2 linked regions of the Homo sapiens genome follow. The main gene of each other region encodes a partner of the protein of the gene in region 2 in a complex. Each region holds a gene or a part of one and is shown on either strand. Other genes may lie near its edges.

The links.
Region 1: the proteins of MAPK1 (region 2) and DHPS are in contact, whole or in part, in a cryo-EM structure (PDB 8PVU), measured with the Homo sapiens proteins. Residues at the interface, in NP_002736.3 of Homo sapiens: Tyr113, Tyr187, Ala189, Thr190, Arg191, Trp192, Arg225, Lys231, His232, Tyr233, Leu234, His239, Lys259; in NP_001921.1 of Homo sapiens: Arg159, Glu160, Asn161, Asn164, Asn173, Glu174, Tyr176, Cys177, Glu180, Asp181, Met184, Asp188, Asp243, Phe247, Tyr250.

The regions. Positions count from the first base shown.
Region 1 is NC_000019.10:12,679,803-12,683,715, forward strand, and holds the start of DHPS (deoxyhypusine synthase), read right to left. Parts: upstream 2,079-3,913; 5' UTR 1,965-2,078; coding exon 1,758-1,964; intron 1,569-1,757; exon of another isoform or gene 1,312-1,568; coding exon of another isoform or gene 1,231-1,311; intron 524-1,230; coding exon 359-523; intron 121-358; coding exon 1-120. UniProt on the Homo sapiens protein: Catalyzes the NAD-dependent oxidative cleavage of spermidine and the subsequent transfer of the butylamine moiety of spermidine to the epsilon-amino group of a critical lysine residue of the eIF-5A precursor protein to form the intermediate deoxyhypusine residue.
Region 2 is NC_000022.11:21,790,862-21,794,774, forward strand, and holds part of MAPK1 (mitogen-activated protein kinase 1), read right to left. Parts: intron 1-3,913. UniProt on the Homo sapiens protein: Serine/threonine kinase which acts as an essential component of the MAP kinase signal transduction pathway. MAPK1/ERK2 and MAPK3/ERK1 are the 2 MAPKs which play an important role in the MAPK/ERK cascade.

The sequences.
Region 1 (3,913 bases), on a different chromosome or scaffold from region 2:
ATTGATCCCGTTCTCCCGGAGCTCCTTCCCCCTGAGGCTAAACTCGCCCAAGTATGTGGGCGCCAGGCACTTGATGAGGTCTTCCTCCACGCCGCCAGCTGTGGTCACCAATACGTCCACCTGCAGCCACAAGGCAGTGAATTTGGCCCAAGAAGGAAGCCCCTGCCCTCATTCTGGGCAGAACTTCTAACCTCATCCTTGTCCAGTGACTCTTATGAGGGAGCTCTGCTACAAAACAAAACTTGATTCTATTCCTCTGCTTATAACAGACCCCTATCTGCCCATCTCACTTAAACGATCAATAACTGCATTGCCCATTGACCCAGAGGCCAAGGCCACGGCCTCACCAGGTCCCCACCATGTTGTGCTGCACAAGGTAGCGAATGGTCTCACGGATGCCTGAACTGATGAGGTTGGATGTATATCCCAGGAAAATGGTGCAGCTGGTAAGTGGGCGGCGGCTCTGGGTCAGGTCCGCGTGCTGGTCTTCATCCTGTGACAGTGGTTCCAGCTTCTTCTCGATCTGTGAGTAAGGGCCAAGTCAAGTTAAGCACTGGCCTTAAATCCCAGACTCAGGACTCCAGGTGGGCTCCAGAAACAGATTTCACCCCAGGCCCTGCACATTCAGGGATACAGGACCAGTTCTACAGGGGACCAAGGAACATCTCCTGTGTAAACTCTGCCCCTTCCCAGACCAGATCTCAAGACACACGTTCAGGATTTGCCCCCACCCTTTTTTTTTTTTTTTTGGACGGAGTTTCACTCTTGTTACCCAGGCTAGAGTGCAATGGCGCGATCTCGGCTCACTGCAAGCTCCACCTCCCGGGTTCAAGCGATTCTCCTGCCTCAGCCTCCCGAGTAGCTGGGACTACAGGCGCGCACCACCATGCCCGGCTAATTTTTTGCATTTTAGTAGAGACGGGGTTTCTCCATGTTGGTCAGGCTGGTCTCGAACTCCCGACCTCAGGTGATCCGCCCGCCTCGGCCTCCCAAAATGCTGAGATTACAGGCATGAGCCACCGTGCCCGGCCTTTTTTTTTTTTTTTTTTTGAGACAGAGTATCGCTCTGTCACCAGGCTGGAGTGCAGTGGCGCAATCTCAGCTCACTGCAACCTCCACCTCGCGGGTTCAAGCGATTCTCCTGCCTCAGCCTCCCGAGTAGCTGGGACTACAGGCGCGCAACACCATGCCCGGCTAATTTTTTGCATTTTAGTAGAGACAGGGTTTCACCATGTTGGCCAGGCTTGTCTCGAACTCCTCTTCTCTTGATCCACCCGCCTCGGCTTCCCAAAATGCTGGGATTATAGGCATGCGCCACCGCGCCCAGCCAGCCCCCACCCTTTTAGGAATCAGAGAGCATCTCCTTTCAGATCCGGTCCCTTCCCCGCTGGGAAAAGCAAATCTAAATTCAAGAACCGCCCAGACTTAGGCTCCTCCTCCCATATCCTCCCTTAATTTGTCTTGCCCCAGGCTCCGCCCATTCCAGAAAGCTTTAAATGTACCTAGAACCCGCCCCCACACCAAGAATCAGTCCTCGCCTCCTCAGGTTACCGTACCAGCATGTAACTACCAGAGTGCAAAATCCCCTTCCCAGGACAGAAACTCCCGCCCAGAATAGGTCCCGCCTTCCTCCAACTATTGGGCAACTCAAATAAAAGACATATCCCCTCCACTGGAAACGCTGCCCCCGTCTAGTACCGCGTTGGTTCTACAAGCCACGCCCCTCCGCGTCCCTAGAAATTCCGCCCGGTCCTCACCATGGCATTGACTTGCTGTACAGCGCGCCCGAAGTTGGTTGCTTGGAAGCCGGTGGTGCCGAAGGCCTCCAGCAGTGCGCGGTAATTCACACCGCGGTTGAAGTCGTAGCCCCGGACCTGGGTGCTTTCGGGCGGCAACGTCGAGCTGTGCTTTAGCACGGCGGCCAGCGCCCCCGCTGGCGCCTCCCGTTCCAGGGAACCTTCCATGCGCCTATAGCCGGCTCTCGAGTCAAAGCTGCCCCTAGGCCGGGCTTACGGCGGCCCAGAAACGCGTTAAACCCCGACGCGCGCGTCTCCGCAAGAGCACAGGAAGTAGGGAACGTGCTTTGGGCGAAAGACCGGAAGTTGGTTTATCACGTGACCATTTTTAGCCCCTGTAAACCAGGTCGCCGCCATTTTTGTGCGTGTGTTCCGTAATACGGAAGCCGCGAGGAGCCTTTAGGCCCTTTCTTTCTTTTTTTTTTTTTTTTTTTTTTTGAGACGGAGTCTCGCTCTGTCACCCAGGCTGGAGTGCAGTGGCGCGATCTCAGCTCACTGCCAGCTCCGCTTTCCGGGTTCACGCTGTTCTCCTGCCTCAGCCTCCCGAGTAGCTGGGACTACAGGCGCCCACCACCACGCCCGGCTAATTTTTTTGTATTTTTAGTAGAGACGGGGTTTCACCTGGTCTCGATCTCCTGACCTCGTGATTCGCCCGCCTCGGCCTCCCAAAGTGCTGGGATTACAGGCGTGACCCACCGCGCCCGGCGCCTTTAGGCCTTTTCTTCCTTTTTTTTTCTTTTTTTTTTTTTTGATACAGGGTTTCGCTCTTGTTGCCCAGGCTGGAGTGCAATTGCCCGATCTCAGCTCACCACAACCTCCACATTCCGGGTTCAAGCGATTCTCCTGCCTCAGCCTCCCGAGTAGCTGGGACTACTGGCATGCACCGCCATGCCCGGCTAATTTTGTATTTTTAGTAGAGGCGGGGTTTCTCCCTGTTGGTCAGGCTGGTCTCGAACTTCCGACCTCAGGTTATCCGCCCGCCTCAGCCTCCCAAAGTGCTGGGATTACAGGCGTGAGCCACTGCGCTTCGGCCTTTACTTGTTTTCATGTGTTCTCGACTTCCCATGAATGAAGATTCTTTTTTATTTTTATTATTTATTTATTTAATTTATTTTTGAGACAAGAGTTACACGCTCTTGTTACGCAGGCTGGAGTGCGGTGGTGCAATCTTGACTCATTGCAACCTCTGCCCCCCTGGTTCAAGCGATTCTCCTGCCTCAGCCTCCCGAGTTGCTGGGATTACAGACACCCACCACCAGGCCTGGCTAATTTTTTATTTTTAGTAGAGATGGCATTTCACCATGTTGGCGAGGCTGGTTCTGCCCTCAGGTGACCGCCCGCCTGGGCTTTCCAAAGTGCTGAGATTACAGGTGTGAGCCACCGTCCCCAGCCAAAATTCCTATTTTAATGCCACCTGCTGGAGACCCACTGCTTGGCCCGGCACTCGCCCATTCGTTTCTGTTCTGTCCCCTCGGGAGGGGAGGATGGTTTTGTTGTTGTTGTTGCTGTTTTGTTTGTTTGTTTGTTTGAGCTAGAGTCTTGCGCTGTCTCCCAGGCTGGAGTGCAGTGGCACGATCTCGGCTCACTGCAACCTCCGCCTCCCAGGTTCACGCCATTCTTCTGCCTCAGCCTCCCCAGTAACTGGGACTACAGGCGCCGGCCACCACGCCCGGCTAATATTTTGTATTTTTAGTAGAGACGGGGTTTCACCGTGTTAGCCAGGGTAGTCTCGATCTCCTGACCTCGTGATCCGCCCGCCTCAGCCTCCCAAAGTGCTGGGATTACAGGCATGAGCCACCGCGCCTGGCCTGCTGCTATTTTTTGATAGGGTCTCACTCTGTCGCCAGGCTGGAGTGCTGTGACGCGATCTCGGCCCACTGCAACCTCTGACTCCCGGACTCAGGTCATCCTCCCACCCCAGCATTCCGACTAGTGTGCACCATCGTGCCCAGCTAATTTTTTTATGAGGGTCACTTTTTTTTTTTTTTTTTTTTTTGAGACAGAGTCTCGCTCTGTCGCCCAGGCTGGAGTGCAGTGGCGCAATCTCGGCTCACTGCAAGCTCTGCCTCCCAGGTTCATGCCATTCTCCTGCCTCAGCCTCCCGAGTAACTGGGACT
Region 2 (3,913 bases):
GGGCATTCTACAAAATAGCTCATCTGCACTCTTAAAGGAGACTAAAGAAACACAACAACCTGTCTCTATGAAAAGCACAAAAATAAATAAGTAAATCAGCCATGAGCAGTAGCACGTGCCTGTAGTCTCAGATACTTGGGAGGCTAAGGTGGGAGGATGGCCTTGAGCCCAGGAGGCGGAGGTTGCAGTGAGCCGAGATGGTGCCACGGTACCCCAGCCTGGGTGACAGAATGAGAACCCGTCCTTTTTTTTTGAGACGGAGTCTTGCTTTGTCACCCAGGCTGGAGTGCAATGGCACGATCTCAGCTCATGCAACCTCCACCTCCTGGGTTCAAGCGATTCTCCTGCCTCAGCCTCCTGAGTAGCTGGGATCACAGGTGCCTGCCACTATGTCCAGCTAAATTTTTTGTATTTTTAGCAGAGACAGGGTTTTGCCATGTTGGCCAGGCTGATCTCGAACTCCTGACCCCATGTGATTCACCCACCTTGGCCTCCCAGAGTGCTGGGATTACAGGTGTGAGCCACTGTGGCTGGCCTGCGAACCTGGTCTTAAAACAAGCAAGCAAACAAGCAAACAAACAAAACTCATGACAGTACAACATGTGAACCTGTGCCCAGGTCGGGGGGTGGTTTGGGTGGGGTATAGTTCAAAGGTTATTGGGATAATATCTAAAATGTGAATATAAACTGTGCATTAGATACTGAATCAGTATTAAGTTTCTTGATTTTGAAAACTGTACTGTGGTCATGTTAGAGAATACTCTTAAGGCAGGGTTTTTCAACCTCGGTATGACTAACATTTTGGGCTGAGAAAGTTTCTGTTTGGAGGGCTGTTCTGTATATCGTAGGATTTTTAGCAGCATCTCTGGCCTCTTGATGCAGGGAGTACCCCTACCCCTCACTGTGACAACCCTGCCACATGTCCCCAGGGAACAACAGGACCATGGTTTGAAGTAAAGACATACTGAAACAAGGTGAAGGGGTGTATCTACAATTTACTCTCAAATGACTCAGAGTGCGTGGGAGTGCCCACACACATGCACACAAAGAATGATAAAGCAAATGGGGCAAAAGATAAAAAATCGGTGAGCCTGAATCTGGGGTAAAGGGTATTTAGGAGTTCTATCTGGCGGTTCTACAAGAGTGTTCCAGAGACTCCTATGGGTTCCCTCTAGAGGATCTGAGAGGTCACAGTACATTTATTATACTACTATGACATTTTCATCCTTTTCAGTCACGAGTGAAAAGAAGATTTTTCCAGATGCAATATGATGAGTGATGATGTGTACATGAAAATGTGACACTTGGAATATCTGTGTAACTCAGTGAACCAGTATTTTCCAAATACGCTAAAAAATCATGCATGAGTATGAGTGCAAGGTAGACTAATGGATTTTAACGAAATAGTATCAAGAATTCACTGATATGATTTCAGATTCCACACTGCAATTAACCTTTAAGAAACCACCACTTGTTTAAACTGGGGGTAGGATCAAAGAATAGCCACAAGTGGCTGAAAAGACTACTAAAATTTCCCTCCTTTTTCCAGCTACATACCTGTGTGAAGAGTTTTCCTCTGGCCATACCACCCTGAACACGCCCGATCTTGTCTGATCTCGGAAGCTAAGCAGGGTTGGCCTGGTTAGTGCTTGGATGGGAGGAATAGATCTTGAATTTCATAAATAGCACTCAGACATCTATTTTTAGGCTTATTTGTAAATGTCTTGATAAAATGTCTGATTACTGTTACATACTAGGGAAAAATCTCACTTTTTTGTGTGTTATGCTTTTAAGCATAGATTTTGTTTGCTAAAATGTTATTTAGAATTTTGCATGTATTTTTCACTGGCTTGCGATTTTTCTTTTTATATAACATCTTTTTTAAAGGGTCTTTATTAATATTGCACTCAAGTTTTCTTCTGTTTTCTATGCTCTGAATTCAAGCAGTTAAAATCCATGGGAAAGAGTTTTCCTTGACATTTTTGAAGAACTATGCATGTAATATTATATTGATTATTAAATTGATTAAAGCCTGAAAAAAAAAAAAAAAAGAGTTTTCCTCATGAACTTAAACCAAAACAACATATTTGACAGACTGAATGCAGAACCAGATGAGAATCCAACTGTCTTCTATTAAGCCAGACATTAAAGAGACTTGCAAAAATGAAAACAATGCCACTCTTCTCACTAAAAGGTTGTTTTTCGTTTTGCTTTTTTTAAAGACAGGGTCTCACCCTGTTGCCCAGGCTGGAGTGCAGTGGCGTGATCACGGTACACCGCAGCCTCAATTTCCTGGGCTCAAGAAAATCTCCCATCTCAGCCTCTTGAGTGGCTGGAACTATAGGTGCACACCACCATGCCCAGCTGATTTTAAAATTTTTTGTACAGATGGCAGGGCACAGCAGCTCACACCTGTAATCCCAGCACTTTGGAAGGCCGAGGCAGGTGGACCACAAGGTCAGGAGGTTGAGCCCATCCTGGCTAACATGGTTAAAACCCTGTCTCTACTAAAAATACAAAAAAATTAGCCAGGCGTGGTGGCGGACGCCTGTAGTCCCAGCTACTCGGGAGGCTGAGGCAGGAGAATGGCGTGAACCTGGGAGGCGGACCTTGCAGTGAGCTGAGATCACACCACTGCACTCCAGCCTGGGTGACAGAGCACGACTCCGTCTCAAAAAATAAATAAATAAATAAATAAATTTCTTTTTTGTACAGAGTCTCACTATGTCACCAGGGCTGGTTCCAAACTCCTGGTGATCCTCCTGCATTGGCCTTCCAAAGTGTTGGGATTATAGGTGAGAGCCATCATGCCTGGCCTCACTAAAACGTTTTTATTGTAGAAAATAAACTTATTCTTAAGAAAAACATGTAATTTATCTTAACATGTAGTGGGTTTACTATTTAAAAATTAATTAATACATTTTAAAGTTTCATATTGTAGGCCGGGTGTGGTGGCTCATGCCTGTAACCCCAGCACTTTGGGAAGCCGAGGCGGGTGGATCACCTGAAGTCAGAAGTTCAAGAGCAGCCTGGCCAACATGGTGAAACCCCATCTGTACTAAAAAATACAAAAATTAGCCGGGCATGGTGGTACACACTTGTAGTCTCAGCTACACGGGAGGCGAGGCCGGAGAATCATTTGAACCCGGGAGGCAGAGGTCGCAGTGAGCCAAGATTGAGCCATTGCACTCAAGCCTGGGGGACAAGCGCCAGACTTCTCTCCAAAAATTAAAAAAAAAAAAGTTTCATATTGTAAATAACAATAGATATAACCTACGTAACTAAAAAAAGGTGTGTGGGTCCTTGACTTTTTTTTTTTTTTTGAGACAGAGTCTCACTCTGTCACCCAGGCTGGAGTACTGTGGCAAGATCTCGGCTCACTGCAACCTCCACCTCCCAGGTTCAAGCGATTCTCCTGCCTCAGCCTCCAAGTAGCTGGGATTACAGGTGTGTGCCACCATGCCCAGTGCATTTTTTGTATTTTTAGTAGAGACAGGGTTTCTCCATGTTGGCCAGGCTGGTCTCGAACTCCTGGGCTCAACTGATCCACCCGCCTCGGCCTCCCAAAGTGCTAGGATTATAAGTGTGAGCCACCATGCCCAGCTGGTCCTTGATAATTTTTAACAAATGTAAAGGGATCTTGGCTGGGCGCAGTGGGTCATGCCTGCAATCCTAGCAATTTGGGAGGCTGAGGTGGGTGGATCAGTTGAGCCCAGGAGTTTGAGACCAGCCTGGCCAACATGGCAAAACCCTGTCCCTACAAAAACATACAAAAATTAGCCGGGCATGGTGGTACACGCTTGTAGTCCCAGCTACACAGGAGGCAAGGCTGGAGGATCGCTTGAGGAGGGGGTGGCTACCAGCCTGGGTGACAGAGAGAAACCCCGTCTCAAAAAAAAAAAAAAAAAAAAAA